Linked DNA regions of Homo sapiens: all the other regions are reported to be linked to region 3. The links are microRNA targets in miRTarBase. Many come from high-throughput screens and were not tested one by one. Region 3 holds a microRNA gene; each other region holds the end of a gene's coding sequence. Distances are between the middles of the regions.
Evidence for each region. The annotated mature microRNA hsa-miR-6786-5p reads GCGGUGGGGCCGGAGGGGCGU and lies in region 3 at 2,790-2,810, opposite strand. An mRNA with a match to its seed (bases 2 to 7 or 8) in the 3' UTR can be bound and repressed. Matches are read on the target gene's strand: a 7mer-m8 pairs with bases 2 to 8, a 7mer-A1 pairs with bases 2 to 7 and ends in A, and an 8mer does both.

Region 1 (6,182 bases), not on the chromosome of region 3:
CATTTACAACAGCATTAAAAACAATAAAATACTTTGGAATTAACTTAACCAATGAGATGAAGAACCTGTACACTGAAAGCTAAAAAGCATTGCTGAAAGAACTTAAAAGAGACACAAATAGACATACTATGTTCACGGGCTGAATGACTTAATATTTTTGCAGAAACAGAAAAATATCCATCCTAAAACTCATATGAAATCTCAAGAATACCAAACCAAGAAGTCAAAACCATCTTGAAAAAGAACAGAGTTGGAGGTCTCACACCACACTTATTTCAAAATTTATTGTAAAACTACAGTAATCAACACAATACGGTAATGGCATAAAGATAAGACATATAGACCAATGGAATCGAGGAGGGAGCCCAGAAATAAAACCTCACATTTATAGTCAAATGAATTTTGACAAGGGTGCCAAGACCATTCAATGGGGAAAGGACAGTCTTCAACAAATGGTGCTGGGAAAACTGGATATGCACATGCAAAAGAATGAAGTTGGACTCTTTTCTTACTCCATATATAAAAATTAACTTGGCTGGGCATGGTGGCTCACACCTGTAATCCCAGCACTTTGGGAGGCTAAGGCAGGCAGATCACAAGGTCAGGAGATCAAGACCATCCTGGCTAACATGGTGAAACCCCATCTCTACTAAAAATACAAAAAAATTAGCCAGGCATGGTGGTATGCGCCTGTAGTCCCAGCTACTCAGGAGGCTGAGGCAGGAGAATCACTTGAACCGGGGAGGCGGAGGTTGCGGTAAGCCAAGATTGCGCCATTGCACTCCAGCCTGGGCAACACAGCAAGACTCCGTCTCAAAAACACAAAAACGAACAAACAAACAAACAGAAATTAACTCATAATACATCAAAGACCTAAATGCAAGAGCTGAAACAATAAGACTCTTAGAAGAAAACATAGGGGGTAAGCCTCACGACATTAGATTTGCAATGATTTTTTGGATATGACATCTAAAGAAAACAAAAAATATCTATAAGTTGGACTACACCAAAATCTTAGACTTCTGCATATCAAAGGATACAATTAATAAAGTAAAAAGGTAACCCCTAGAATGGGAGAAAATATTTGCAAATCATATATCTGATAAGGGGTTAATATTCAGAATATATAAAGAACTTCCACAACTCAACAACAACAAAAAACTAATTTAAAAATGGTCAAAGGACTTAGACATTTTTCCACAGATGACATACAAATGGTCACAACTAAGAAGGAAAAGCCCAACGTGTGTTCTTCCAGCCTCTGCTTCTGTCATGTTTGTCAACACTCCATTGGCCAAAGAAAGTCACATGACCAAGCTCGTCTTCAAGGTTTGGAGAAATAAACTCCACCTCTTGATAGGAGGAGCTGCAAAGTCACATGGAAAAGACATATACATAGAGGGATAGAAGAAGTCATTGTGGCAACCATCTACCACTGCATCATTACTTATCAAGAATATGCAAATTAAACCTAAGAAACTGCTGCATACCCACTAATGTAGCTCAAATTAATTTGCGTGACAGTACCACATGTTGCCAAGGATGTGAAGCAATGAAACTTTCATTCATTGATGTACAAATTGAGGTGTAAATGGTTTCAACCACATTGAAAAACTGTCTGGCAAGATCTACTAAAGCTAAAGATAGGTCTCCTCCAAAATCCAGTAATTCCATTCCTACATTTATACTCAAGAGAAATGAATACCTATGTCCACAGTATGACTTAACAAGAACATTCACAGCAGCTTTATTCATAACAATAAAACCTGCAGGATTATTCACAATAGCCAAGATATGGAATCAACCTAACTGTCCATCGGTGGATGAATGGATAAAGAAAATGTGGTATATCTACACAATGGAATACTATTCAGCCTTGATGAGGAAGGAAATTCTGTCATTTGTGATAACATGGATGAACCTGGAGGACAGAACTCAAATGTTTGTAAACAGAATAGAATTTTTAAATTGTGGTATATTCAGACTATGGACTATTACACAGCAATTAAAAAGCATAAACTACTGATAATACAACATAGATAAATCTCAATGACACTATATTAAGTGAAGAAAACAGACACAAGAGGGCTGTTTATGGTTCCATTTACATGAACAGGAAAAACAAATCTATGGTGATAGACATCAGAATAGTGATAACCTTTGAGGATGAGGTGGGGCCCAAGGGAAATTTCTGGGACGATAAAATATTTTGATGGAGACCGTGGTGGGTATAGACATATACAAAATTCACCAAGGTGTACCCTAAGATTTATTAACGTTTATGTAAGTTATACCTAAGAGAACTTTAAAACCAAAAAAAAAAAAAAAAAAAAAAAAAGAACAAGTAAAAATGGAGACTAGTCCCCTGGGTCTGCCACTGTAGAGAGAGTCAGGCCTGTCACATGCCACCCAGATGACTTTGATAGCCCACCTTAACTTGCTGGGCCTCAGCTTCCTCATCTGGGAATTGGGGATAACAGTACATACCTCAAAGTGTCAGTGTGAGGACTAAATTAAAAGATGCAAAGCTTCAGGCAGTGGCTACTATCTATTAATAGTAAACTCTAAATAAGTATTTACTATCATTACAATGAATGGTTGAATGTTCAGTAATAGGGAAAAGGATGATCACTTTATAAGAATAAAAGTAACAATTTGTTGGAAATGTAAAAAATGTCAGTATCTATATTTAATTTCATTGCTTCAAAACATATATATGTATGTATATACATAAATTTAAAAACTGACAGAATGACAAAGATTTTTCAGCAATACATAATCATGGTGGGAGAGTTTAACATACCTCTCTCAATAAATGCTAGATCACAGATCAACATTTATAAATGTGTAGATGGTTTTTAAACACATTTGCTTGATCTAGCAGACATTTGTAGAATACAATACATTGATTTCAACCATCCATGAAGCATTTATAAAAACTGACATATACTAAGTGCATCAGTTAGGAATTATATTCAGGTGAAATAAACCTCCCACCAAAAACAAAAACAAACAAAAGAAAACTGTACCAGTAAGAAGTGCATATTTTTCATGTATGGGACATCCAGAAATAAATAGTCCAGGGCTGCTGCAATCACATAAATATGCCAATTCTATTAAATCTATCCTAAATATTTTTTAGATTACAGAAGCAAGATGGTTATGACTTCCGGCCACCCTCTTCTTAGCTTGCGGCTTTTACCCTTATGGTCACAGGAGGGCTCCTCTAGGTCTAGAAATCATGTCTACTTGTCCAAAAGGCAAGAAGTGGAGAGATGTGGCTACATGAAACCATCCCTGAACACAATATCTTCCCCAGAGTCACATCCAGTGACTTCTCATATTCATACTAGCCAGGACCGGAGGAAATGGCCTGCCCTTGCTTGCAAGAAGGGCTGGGAGATGGAAGCTTTTTTTTATTATTATTATTTTTGAGACAGAGTTTCACTCTGTTGCCCAGGCTGGAGTGCAGTGGCGCAATCTCGGCTCACTGCAACCTCTGCCTCCTGGGTTCAAAGAATTCTCCTGCCTCAGCCTCCCAAGTAGCTGGGATTACAGGTGCATGCCACCAAACTTGGCTAATTTTTATATTTTTAGTAGAGAGGGGATTTCACCATGTTGGCCAGGCTGATCTCGAACTCCTGACCTCAGGTGATCCCCCAGCCTCAGCCTCCCAAAGTGCTGGGATTAGAGGCATGAGCCACCGTGCCCAGCCGGGAGATGGAAGCTTTTTAATAGTGCACACTGCCAATCTGAACAGAAAACCCAGGTTCTTTTCTAAGGAGGAAGGGGTAATTTGGGTTGGCAGCTAGAAGAATAAGCCACACCAGACCTAATAGCAAATCTCAGCAAATACCTATGACTCAGTAACAAAGAGGCCACATACTCTTCTCACCATGTAATTAAATTAGAAACCAACAACAAAAAGGCAACTAAGAAATAGCCATATAACATGCAGGAACCTTCCAGAGAGATAGAAACATTCTATATCTGGAATGGGGTGGTGGTTACATGCATGTATGCATCTGTCAAACTCATCCAACTGTACACTTCAGATGTATGCATTTCACTATAAGTCATTATACCTCTATGAAAATATATCCACATATTAGTTTTGAAAAATCTAATTCCAAATAATAGATGGGTCAAAGAATAAACGATAATGGAGGTTAAGACAATACTTACAATTAAACCAAAATGAAAATATTATACATTGAAACACAGGATGCAGCTAAAGGAGTATTACGAGGGAAAGTCATAGCCCCATGTGTTTATATTTTTACAAAATGGAAGTTAATTAGCAAGGGGCCCACAGTATGGATGAGACATGGATAAAGGCAGGCTGCCATTCCTAATGGTCTCTCTTCCCACATGGGTTCTTTTGTGTACAGTGAGTGAGGAGCTGTGCCTGAAGGCTTTCTCACACTGATTACATTGATAGGGTCTCCCGGCACTGTGTGTTCTCACATGTACAATAAGATGTGAAGACTGACCAAAGGCTCGCCCGCATTCCTGGCATGCATAGGGCTTCTTGCCACTGTGAGTCCTTGCATGTTTCCTGAGGGATGAGGGCTCACTGAAGGCTCGCCCACATTCCTGGCACACATAGGGCTTCTCTCCAGTGTGAGTTCGCATGTGACTCTTCAGGGTTGAAAGACGACTCAAGACCTGACCGCAAGTCGCGCACTCATACAGTTTCTCCCCTGTGTGTATCCTCTTGTGCACGTTCAGATGAGTGCTCGTCCGGAAGGGCTTGCCACACTGGTTGCATTCATATGGTTTCTCTCTGGTATGGGTTCGCAGATGTGTCTTCAGTGAAGAGTGTTCCCTGAAGGCTTTCCCACACTGGCTGCATTCAAAGGGCTTCTCTCCAGTGTGAGTTCTCACGTGGCTCCTGAGGGATGATGGCTGATTGAAGGCTTTCCCACAATCTTTACACTCGTAGGGCTTCTCTCCTGTGTGGTTTCTCTGGTGCAAAATCAGGTTAAAGTTCCTCGTGAAGGTTTTCCCACACTGACTACATTCAAATGGCTTCTCTCCGGTATGGGTTCTCATGTGTCGCCGGAGATTCGAGGAATATTTGAAGGCTTGCCCACATTCTTGACAGTCAAAGCACTTCTCTGCAGTATGAGTCTTCTCATGCCTGATAAGGTCAGAGCTGTATCTGAAGGATTTTTCACATTTGTTACATGCATAGGATTTATCCCCACTACGGATTTTCTCGGGCACAATTAGGTGGGCACTCTGGAAGAAGGAATTTCTAATCTCTTGACATTCACAGGATGCCTCTCCAGCATGAATTCTCTGGTACTGGAAAAGTGGTTCAATGCTGTTAAAAGGTTTCTCAAGTTCATTATATTTATAGAGTTTTTCTCCAGGCTGAGGTTGCTCCTGTCGATGAAGGAAAATGTGAAGACCAAAGGCCTTATTAGATTCACAGATATTCTCCCCTATGTGAAATGAATGTAAGAAAAAGACAGTTCTATATCTGATACTTTTACCATTTATGGAGTCCATACCATTTCTATCCAGAGTTCCTTCAAGTGGAATAGGGTGGATACTCTGTTGCAAAGAGCTATCTTTTCATTATTTTCATGCAGCTTCTTAGATGCAGAATTTTTCCAATTTGTGTAAGGCTAAATTAAGTCTTAAACACTTTGTATGTGTCATATCTGTGAAAATGCTTACTTGTACGAACATGATCTACATTTAGTTTTCCACCAATTCATGACATTCACGGACTCTCTCCCAAGAAACTGCTTCCTTCTGGGTAAACACTTCTTGCCTCGAATCGCTCTTGGCTCTTGGGCTGCTTTTCTAACTTACGGTTAACCCCAGACTCATCCTACTATAGAGAACCATGAATAATCCCTGGTGAGCCTTACCCCTTTCACATCAATGGACAGGATCTCTGTAAAAGTATCTTGGCTAGGAATTGCCTCTTGGGGTTGACACTGAGGTTCTGAAATGAATTAGGGAAGAAAAAGTTAAGCACACAGAGAAAGAAACTGTGGGATCAAGGTCACCTCAAAAGTAGGCAAGGCACATGTGGACTTTTTTTCCCAAATACTGGTCCTATGTACGGGAAGAAATTGCAATGAGAAGGAATGCATCTAAAAGTTAAGGAAAATTTTAAGGTGTGTGGCTAGATGAGAAGTTATGTAATCAGAGGAACATGGGAA
Region 2 (4,000 bases), 74 Mb from region 3:
AGGGGCTGCGGGGCTGGGTAGGGCTGAGGATGGGCCCAGCTCTCTCTGGGATGTTCCTGGGCTTTCTCTCTCCGAAGCTCCCTGCTGGCGGCTCGGGCTTCCTCTCTCCGCCCACAGTCTTGCACTCTAATACTTGTTTGCTTGCCTCTGACACAGCCGGTCCCTCTGGCTGGCTCACCCAGATGGATATCAGGAGCCTGGGTTCCACTGCGGAGGGAGGGATCAGATGCTGAGATGGAGAAAAGGAGGTAACGCCTGTATAATTGGGACACTGCCCTCCGCCTGGTCAGCGGCCCGGACTGATGCCCTGGAGTGCTTGTCCGCCCACTCCCCAATGTCCCCCAAGATCTGTTCCTCCCCATTCCCAGGCAGAGATGAGCACAGGGCACCTGCATTCCTACGTGTGAATCATCCGTGTGAATCACTAAACAGTGGAGAGTTGCACTTGGTCATAAATCACACGTGACTGCAGCCACACGCAGGTGAGTCGCACACGCATTCCAGCACATGTCAAATGGTCAGGAACAGCTCCCTGTCACCCCATACACCGATCCCCCCACGCATGGCCCTCTTTGTCCCCAGCCTTTGGCACGCCCGACCTCATTCTCTGCTCTGGAGTAGGGCAGGTCAGGAAAGCGAAATACAGCGCCGGCAAACAGGGTCTGAATGCCCCGCGTGGCATTCTTTCCGCTCCAGGACCGCCCTGGGCCTGCAGGATCCTGGGCGGGAGCCCAGGTGTCCGGGATCTGGGCCACTAGGGACTGGGGAGGAACCTCTCAGAGAAGCCCATAGCCCGCAGCGGCCCCGCGCGGCCGGTTCCGGCGCCGCACTGTTCCAGCCTCTACTATGGTACAGTCCCTGCGTCGCAGCCTCGGCGGGGGCTCTAAGAACGGGAGGCAGAAAAAGCTCAATCAGCAGCAGGCGAGCTTCACCCGCTGCTTCCAAATCTGTGCCAAAATATTCTATGCTGCACAGATAAAATCCTCTGTCGGTTCTACAAGCCTGGCTTTTCCTATAGAGAACCCTCTTATAAGCAAAAAGTAAAGCTCTCGTGAAGAGCCCGGATAGCTCAGTCGGTAGAGCATCAGACTTTTAATCTGAGGGTCCAGGGTTCAAGTCCCTGTTCGGGCGGCATGTCTTTGCTTTTGGGTACCGCACTTCGCATAAAATGGTAACAAAAATAGTTACTAGTTTTTAAAGCTAGGTGATACAGAAACTTGATTTCCACAAAATACAGCAAACGACGGTGGAGGGTAATAAACATACTTTAAAACAGTACAAACGCGAGCCGTATTATCGAATTTACATTTTCTGGTAGCCACATTACAAAGAATAAAAAGCAAGCGAAATTAATTTCACGGATCTATTTTACTTACCCTAATATACCAAAATCTTATTTTAACATATAATCAACATTCTAAAAATATTAATGAAATTTTAAGTCTTTTTGTTTGTACAAAGCCTTCCTTCAAAAGAAGATGTGTATTTAGAAGCTGGCAATACATCTGAATTCATATATTTCAAGTGCTCGATAACGGTGTCTACCATATCCAACAGCAGACTTTGTTTTGTTTTCGTTTTAAGTGACGGGTGTGGAAGACACGCAAAATAGAATGTCCAGTAATGTACACAATCTTGAAAGACACCACGAGGGAGGTTCCATGGTGTAATGGTTAGCACTCTGGACTCTGAATCCAGCGATCCGAGTTCAAATCTCGGTGGAACCTTGAAGCTTTTCTTTTAATATCAGCATGTTGAATATTGTTAATTGATTTTCACAGAGGGGATACTCCTATGACCCAAGATAATACGACAAAAAAAAAAAGTAAACTAGGACACTACCAATTATTTGTGCTTTTCCTACCGGATAATTGAGTCCTATAACACAGTGTTAAGAGAACGTACAATAAATTATTTAAATATGTTGGAAGTTGAGCTAACATTTGAAAACATGTTAAAATAGAGATGTTATGAAGAAACGAAATAATAGAGATGTTATGAAGAAACGAAATATTGCTTCAGCAGTTACCATCAGGTCTTAGCTTCTGGGATGGATGCAGGCCTATGATCTCTCTGGAAGACCAAACACGGAAGATGATGGTGAAACCATTACCAGGGGAATTCGTAAAATTACTTTCTGCATGTAAATAGGTGTAACCTCACAGAACTGTTAACAGAACTGTAGCAGGTGCGTAATCCACCAGAAAAACTCCAGCCTGGCAGCGGTGGGATTCGAACCCACGCCTCCGAAGAGACTGGAGCCTAAATCCAGCGCCTTAGACCGCTCGGCCACGCTACCTGCACGAAAACTTACTGTCCCCGTTGTCCTCCTAAGAGACTAGAAGTAAGGAATGGGGCAAATCTTAAGAGTGCCAAATTGATTCGTCTCCTTTTCCACATCTTTTAGACTGGAAATGAAGAACCATCGAGACTGTGGACCGCATAGCAGCAGATGGCAGAACAGATAAACGAGAAGAGACAAAAACACACAGAAATTTACAACAAAACTAGTTTATTTGGGTGGGACTATATCTGGGAGTGGGGAGCGCCTGAGCCGGAAACACCCCCCAAGCGGGCAGCCGGAGCTCTGCACTCGCTCGCTCAGCCATTTTCGGTTGCTCTCCCTCCCTGTTTTTTCGACCCATGTGCGCCCTCTCTCTCACCTGGCTAACATGCTTTGCGCCCGCTACCTCTACCTGGCTTGGCCTCTGAGATCCAAACCGCGCCCTCCTGGCATGTCCCGCCCAAGTCCCTTAGCCCCGCTCCCCAACCCTGCCCCATTCCCACTCTAGTACCCGTAAGCTACAAGACGCCGCCGTTCGTCGGGTGGCTCTGTGGCGCAATGGATAGCGCATTGGACTTCTAGTGACGAATAGAGCAATTCAAAGGTTGTGGGTTCGAATCCCACCAGAGTCGATTTTATTTCAATTTTTCCTTTTTATCCGTTTTTTTCTTAAAGGCCCCCATCCCTTCTCCCCCTACCCTATCTCTCTCTTTCCACCTGGTTTCAATTTCGATCTCAGTTCCCGCTCTGCTCTCTTCTTTACTTACCTGTCTGCCCCGGGGCTTGGGCCATGGAGAGCAGGACTGAGGGTGGGAGACAGAAGGGAAGGGAAAGTGGGCGTGGACGTCGAGATAAAGGCAGGCCCCTGGCTCGGGGACACACGGGGATTTAATAACCACTTTATTCCATGCACTAGGGACTCGGGAAGGGACTGGGACTGGGCTGAGGGGCAGAGAGAGTACAATCCTAGACGCAAGGGAGAAGTTGGGGCAGGGAAAAGGGACAGGAACCAGGGAAATATATATTTATATAGATACTCTAATATAGACCACATCTCACCCGCGCGCTGAGCCCGCGCGCCCCACTGCCCTCCCCAACACCTGCTCGCCCGGACGCCCGGGTCCCTCTGCTGCCCTCGGGCTGGAGTCTCTACCCCACCCCTAGACCCCGCCCCCACCACCCCCCAAGGCTCAGGGCCAAGGTCTCCAGAAAGCGGGCGGCGGGGGCAGCGGGGCCTTGGGCGCCCCGTCTTGTCTGTGAGGCGGCGGTGGCGGCGGCAGCAGTCCGGTGAGGGGCGCCGGCGCGCCAGAATCCCCGGCGCGCGGGGAGCAGAGGGATGGGGACCATGCGCAGCGCGGGCTAGGGTGGCCCTGGTGCACTGGGGGGCGCTGGTGCAGCGCAGGGCCAAGGGCCGGTGCGGCGGGGTCCAGGGATGGGCGCGGCGCTGGAGGCCTCGGATCTACCGGCTTGGGCCGGGGCGGTTTGGGGCGCAGATAGCCGTGCAGCGCGGAGAAGAGCTGGGCGCGGGCGGCCGGGCTGGCGTCGTGCGCGAAGGCCGCCAAGCGAAGCAGGCACTCGCGGAAACCGGACAAGTAGCAGCTGGCGAGCGCCTCGGCGTCCTGGACTGGGGACCGGGGAACCCCTGGAGCCGCGGCGGCTGGTGCGGCCGGCGGGAGCACAGGTGGGCAGGGCAGGGGCCCGGCAGGGGTGAGGGAA
Region 3 (4,000 bases):
CTCCAGGTACTCCTGTGCGGCAAAAACATGCTGGTTATGCTGCGAGGTCCCCCAGCCGGCCCCGGCCTGTGGCTGGGCAGCCACTGCACCTGCTTCTTCTGCCGCATTATCTCCAGCTTCTGGGCCAGCTGGATCTGGCGCTGGCGCTCTGCCTCCTCGGCTGCCCGGCGAAGCTTCTCCCGGTGCTCTTCGCGCAGGGCACTCAGCGCCCCCCGGGCATCGCGGATCTGTGCCAGCTTGTCCTGCAGCCCCTCATAGTACACTGTGGGCAGATGACAGAGCAACCCTGACCACTCCGGCACAGTGCCGAGAAGCTCCTGGGTGGAACGGACACGCAGATGGGCCGCCCTGTGCCCAACCTTCTGCAGAGGGCTCTGAAGGTGCTGGGCTCTGGGGGAGGCAGGCAGAGGGTCCTGGGCAGGGCAGGGCAGGGCAGGGCAGGGCAGGGCAGGGCATGGTCATCACTGAGACCACCTCCTGTTGACACTCTCTGGAGGAAGCCACGGCCCCAATGAAGGACTCACAAGAGCTCAGCACCCTCAGGGGAGGCCCTGGCCCAGGATGGCGCTCACAACACCTGGCTGCCCCTGAGCCGAGGCCCCGTGGCGCGGGCACCTACGCCTGCGCTCGTCCAGCTGGTTGAGCAGCTCCAGCAGCTGCGGGTGCATGCCGTTGATGGACTGGAAGAGTGAGAGCACGGCCGAGTCATTGGTGATGCTGCGGCCCCGCATGTGGTTACTCTTCATGCGGTTCACGAAGGTGGTGACGGCGTTCTGCAGCGCCTTCAGGAACTGCTCGTGGCTCTCCTCAGACTCGCCATTGTGGAACTGTGGCTGCAGGCAGAGCAGGGTTCTGGATGAGTGCGGCCACGCCCCAGCCAGCCTCCCTGGTGGGGCCTGGGATGGAGGCACCCAGCTATACTCAAGCCTGGAGCAGAGTCCATCTGCTCCTTATGCAAGCAGCCCCTTCTACAGCTGAGGAAGGCGAGGCCCTGGAGGCGGGGTCCTTGTCCAGCTGCAAGCCCTGGTCAGGACGGAGCTGGCTCAGGGCCCCACTGCCAGCTCCCTCTCCAGGGACCTGTGCTCTGACAGCCAACCAGCCCACAAGCCCCAGGCAACGCCAAGGACTCATCTGATGGTTCTAGGCTGCTCTGGAATATTCAGGTCCATGTTAGGTCCACAGAGAGTGGCCCGAGCTCTGGACCACAGCCTGGTGTAGAGTTTCCATTGGGAGAGGCCACAAAGGGCAGGGCAGGGCAGGCCAGGGCTGGGCTGGGGCAGACACCCTTGCTCTAGCACGGCCCTCTGGTTAGGGCAGGCACCTGTGCCATGTGCCTGGCGCTGTGGGCCAGGAGGCCATGTTTTGCCCTGGCCCGTGGAGGGAGCCACAGCTTACCTCACTAAAGGGGCCACCAGAGGGAGGAATGGGCTGAGAGTCTGTCTCCGGGAGGGGGTTCTGGAAGAGAGAGAATGAGTGGGGCCTCCAACCTGTCCCGCATCCACCCCTTCCAAGGGACCCTGCCACTAGGAATGCCGGGAGTGGCCCCCTCACCTCCACCACGTTGGTGGGGGCTGCGTGCCCTTCCCCAGGCTGTGCAGCCGGCTCCGTCAGGGGCACGGGCGCAGATGGCGTGGGGCTCTTGCGAGCCTCCTCCTGCTTCTTCTCCCAGTAGTTCCGGTTGAGATACCGTGCGAGCTGCAGGCAATGAGGGGGTCACTCCCAAGGCCAGAAACCGTGAGAGGATGCACCCCATGCTGGGCCTTACCTCAGGGTCGATGTCCTCAGCCAGAGGCGCCGACGAGTTCTGGGGAGAAAAGGGCATCTGAGTCTCACAGGTGACAGAGCCAGTTGCTTCGGCAGGGACAGGGATGTCCCCAGTGCGACAGATCCTGGAGACCAGAGCCGCAGCCTGGGCCCTCCCTCCGTGCCCTCCTCTGGTTCCTGGCATCTGAGCAGCCATCTTTTCTCCTCTTCCAGATGCTTAGAACTCCACAGAGGCTGACAGCACTGCCGTCCTACAAGGCTCCTAACCTTGCTATGGGAGGAACAGGGTGGCACTGGGCCAGCCCTGGGGCCTCAAGGTGGACACTGGACAGCCCCCACGGTCCAGCGTGTGGGGCCCCAGCCGACAGCCCGGAAGGAAGGGAAGAAGGGAAGGGGTGGCTCACTGGGGCAGGGCTGTTCTGCACCCCTGGGCCTGCAGCGGCCTGGCCACTCCACGGAACCTACAAAATGACTTTCTCAACCTGCTGTCCCCGACCCAACCCCCTGCAAAACAGGCTGCCTCTTCACCCTCTACTGAGAGCGGGGCTGAGGCCAGGGAGAGGTGACGTGGATGCCCCAGAAAGCAAGTCCTTCAGTTCCTGTGGGGCGGGAGGGGTGTGGAAGAGACGGGGTCTCACCAGCAAGGCGCCTCCCCCACAGCCTGTCCCATGTCCTCAGTCCCAAGGGCCGAACCAGGGACCAGGAGCAACGGGTGCCTGGAGCCGTGGGGCTCTGCCCTGATGTCCGCCCGTGTGCTGGGGCTGTCCTCTCTGGGAAGCCCGGGGACCCGCATCCCCCACCAACCTGACTAAATCAGCTCAGGGACCCGCGTCCCCCATCAACCCTACTGCCTTCCAGGAGAGGGAGCTCCAGCCCAAGGGCCGCTCACCACAGGTGAAGAGTACAGGCTGCTGGCGGGGGGCGCTGAGGAGGCCGAGGGCATGGGCTCCGCCTTGGGGTACGAAGTGTACGTGGACTTCTGTCTCTGAGGCAGAATCAGAAGGGGCGTCACTTGGGTGCACGTGACGCCCCTCCGGCCCCACCGCAGCACATCCAGGGGAGCTGGGCCCCTCCTGAGGCCGCCCCGCCCCACCCGGCTTACCAGCCTCTCCTTCTCCTCCGCCTCTGACTGTGACAGCGCCAGGGCCAGCTGCAGCTCCTCCTCCTCCTGCAGGGCCGTCTCGTCCCTCTTGGGGGGCAGCTGAGGACAAGCGGGGAGGGTGAGGGGGGGCGCCGGGGAAGAGGTGCCCACGGGACGGAGGGGGCTGAGTACCTGGGACTGCTGAGACAGGGGGCTGGTCAGGTACTCGGGGGGCAGCTCAGTGGTGGAAGTGGCCTTTCCCTCCGCTTTCCTGTGGGCACAAGGAATGCTGCAGGTCACCATGCGCTGACACCGCCCTGCCCCCGCCAAAGCTCTCAACCACACCTCTGCGGGCTCCTCTAAGTGTCCCCACAGAGTGAGGACAGTGGTTCCACAGCCACAGGTGTCCGAATGGCCACACTCCAGAGCAGAGCAGGGCAGGACTCGAGGGCATCACACCAGCCACAAGGGCTCGGGTGAGTCCCTCAGGGTAAGCCCCAGTTCCTCTCCTGAAAATGGACATTCAGGACACCAGCCCGGCCTGCGAAGACCTTCCTACGGCACTCGGGAAACCAAACACAGCACCGCCACTGTGGGACGGGCCCCACCCAAGAAGGGGCAAACAGGTCAGTGACTGTCATGCCCAGTAAGCTCTTCCGGGGCGCCCCAGGCAGTCCAAGGGCCGCAGGCTCACAGCATGGTCGCAATTTCCAACCACGCACGCTGACCTTTGACCTGGGGCTCTTTTCTTTTTTTTTTATTTGAGATAGAGTCTTGCTCTGTCGCCCAGGCTGGAATGCAGTGGCGCCATCTTGGCTCACTGCAATCTCCGCCTCTCAGGTTCAAGTGATTTTCCTGCCTCAGCCTCCCGAGTAGCTGGGACTACAGGCATCTGCCACCAAGCCCGCTAATTTTTGTATAAAATACAAAAATTTTAAGTATAAAATACTTAAAAAGTAGAGACGGGATTTCACCATGTTGGCCAGGATTGTCTTGATCTCTTGGCCTCGTGATCTGCCCGCCTCAGCCTCCCAAAGTGCTGGGATTACAGGCATGAGCCACCGTGCTCGGCCGACCTGGGGCTCTTTCCTAAGAGAAAAGTCCACACCGAGGCAGACCTGCACAGCCCCCAGCACAGGGAAACGGCAGCAAGTG

Region 1: miRTarBase lists ZNF333 as a target of hsa-miR-6786-5p. Seed matches in the 3' UTR shown: 7mer-A1 at 1,817-1,823.
Region 2: the mRNA of HES7 is a reported target of hsa-miR-6786-5p. The part of its 3' UTR that is shown has no 7-base or 8-base seed match.

The regions. Positions count from the first base shown.
Region 1 is chr19:14,717,437-14,723,618 of GRCh38, reverse strand. It overlaps ZNF333 (zinc finger protein 333), which reads right to left. Exons shown (of 12, transcript NM_032433.4): 11 at 5,886-5,962; 12 at 1,720-5,391. The coding sequence ends at 4,294. Among named protein-coding and RNA genes, the nearest start is that of ZNF333, 30 kb to the right of the region's middle.
Region 2 is chr17:8,118,097-8,122,096 of GRCh38, forward strand. It overlaps HES7 (hes family bHLH transcription factor 7), which reads right to left. Exons shown (of 4, transcript NM_001165967.2): 4 at 2,496-3,941. The coding sequence ends at 3,475. It overlaps ALOXE3 (arachidonate epidermal lipoxygenase 3), which reads right to left and starts at 418. Exons shown (of 16, transcript NM_021628.3): 1 at 390-418; 2 at 1-207. It overlaps TRK-TTT3-5 (tRNA-Lys (anticodon TTT) 3-5), which reads left to right and starts at 1,059; the gene lies at 1,059-1,131. TRQ-CTG1-5 (tRNA-Gln (anticodon CTG) 1-5) reads left to right here and starts at 1,656; the gene lies at 1,656-1,727. It also overlaps TRL-TAG1-1 and TRR-TCT2-1. RefSeq lists enhancers at 1-783, 505-584, 665-734, 885-984 and silencers at 1,505-1,554, 1,685-1,774, 2,145-2,354, 3,295-3,754, 3,975-4,000.
Region 3 is chr17:81,692,619-81,696,618 of GRCh38, reverse strand. MIR6786 (microRNA 6786) reads right to left here and starts at 2,862; the gene lies at 2,750-2,862. It overlaps HGS (hepatocyte growth factor-regulated tyrosine kinase substrate), which reads right to left. Exons shown (of 22, transcript NM_004712.5): 9 at 3,038-3,116; 10 at 2,867-2,965; 11 at 2,654-2,749; 12 at 1,766-1,804; 13 at 1,552-1,695; 14 at 1,396-1,455; 15 at 620-833; 16 at 90-262; 17 at 1-12. RefSeq lists a silencer at 3,758-3,943.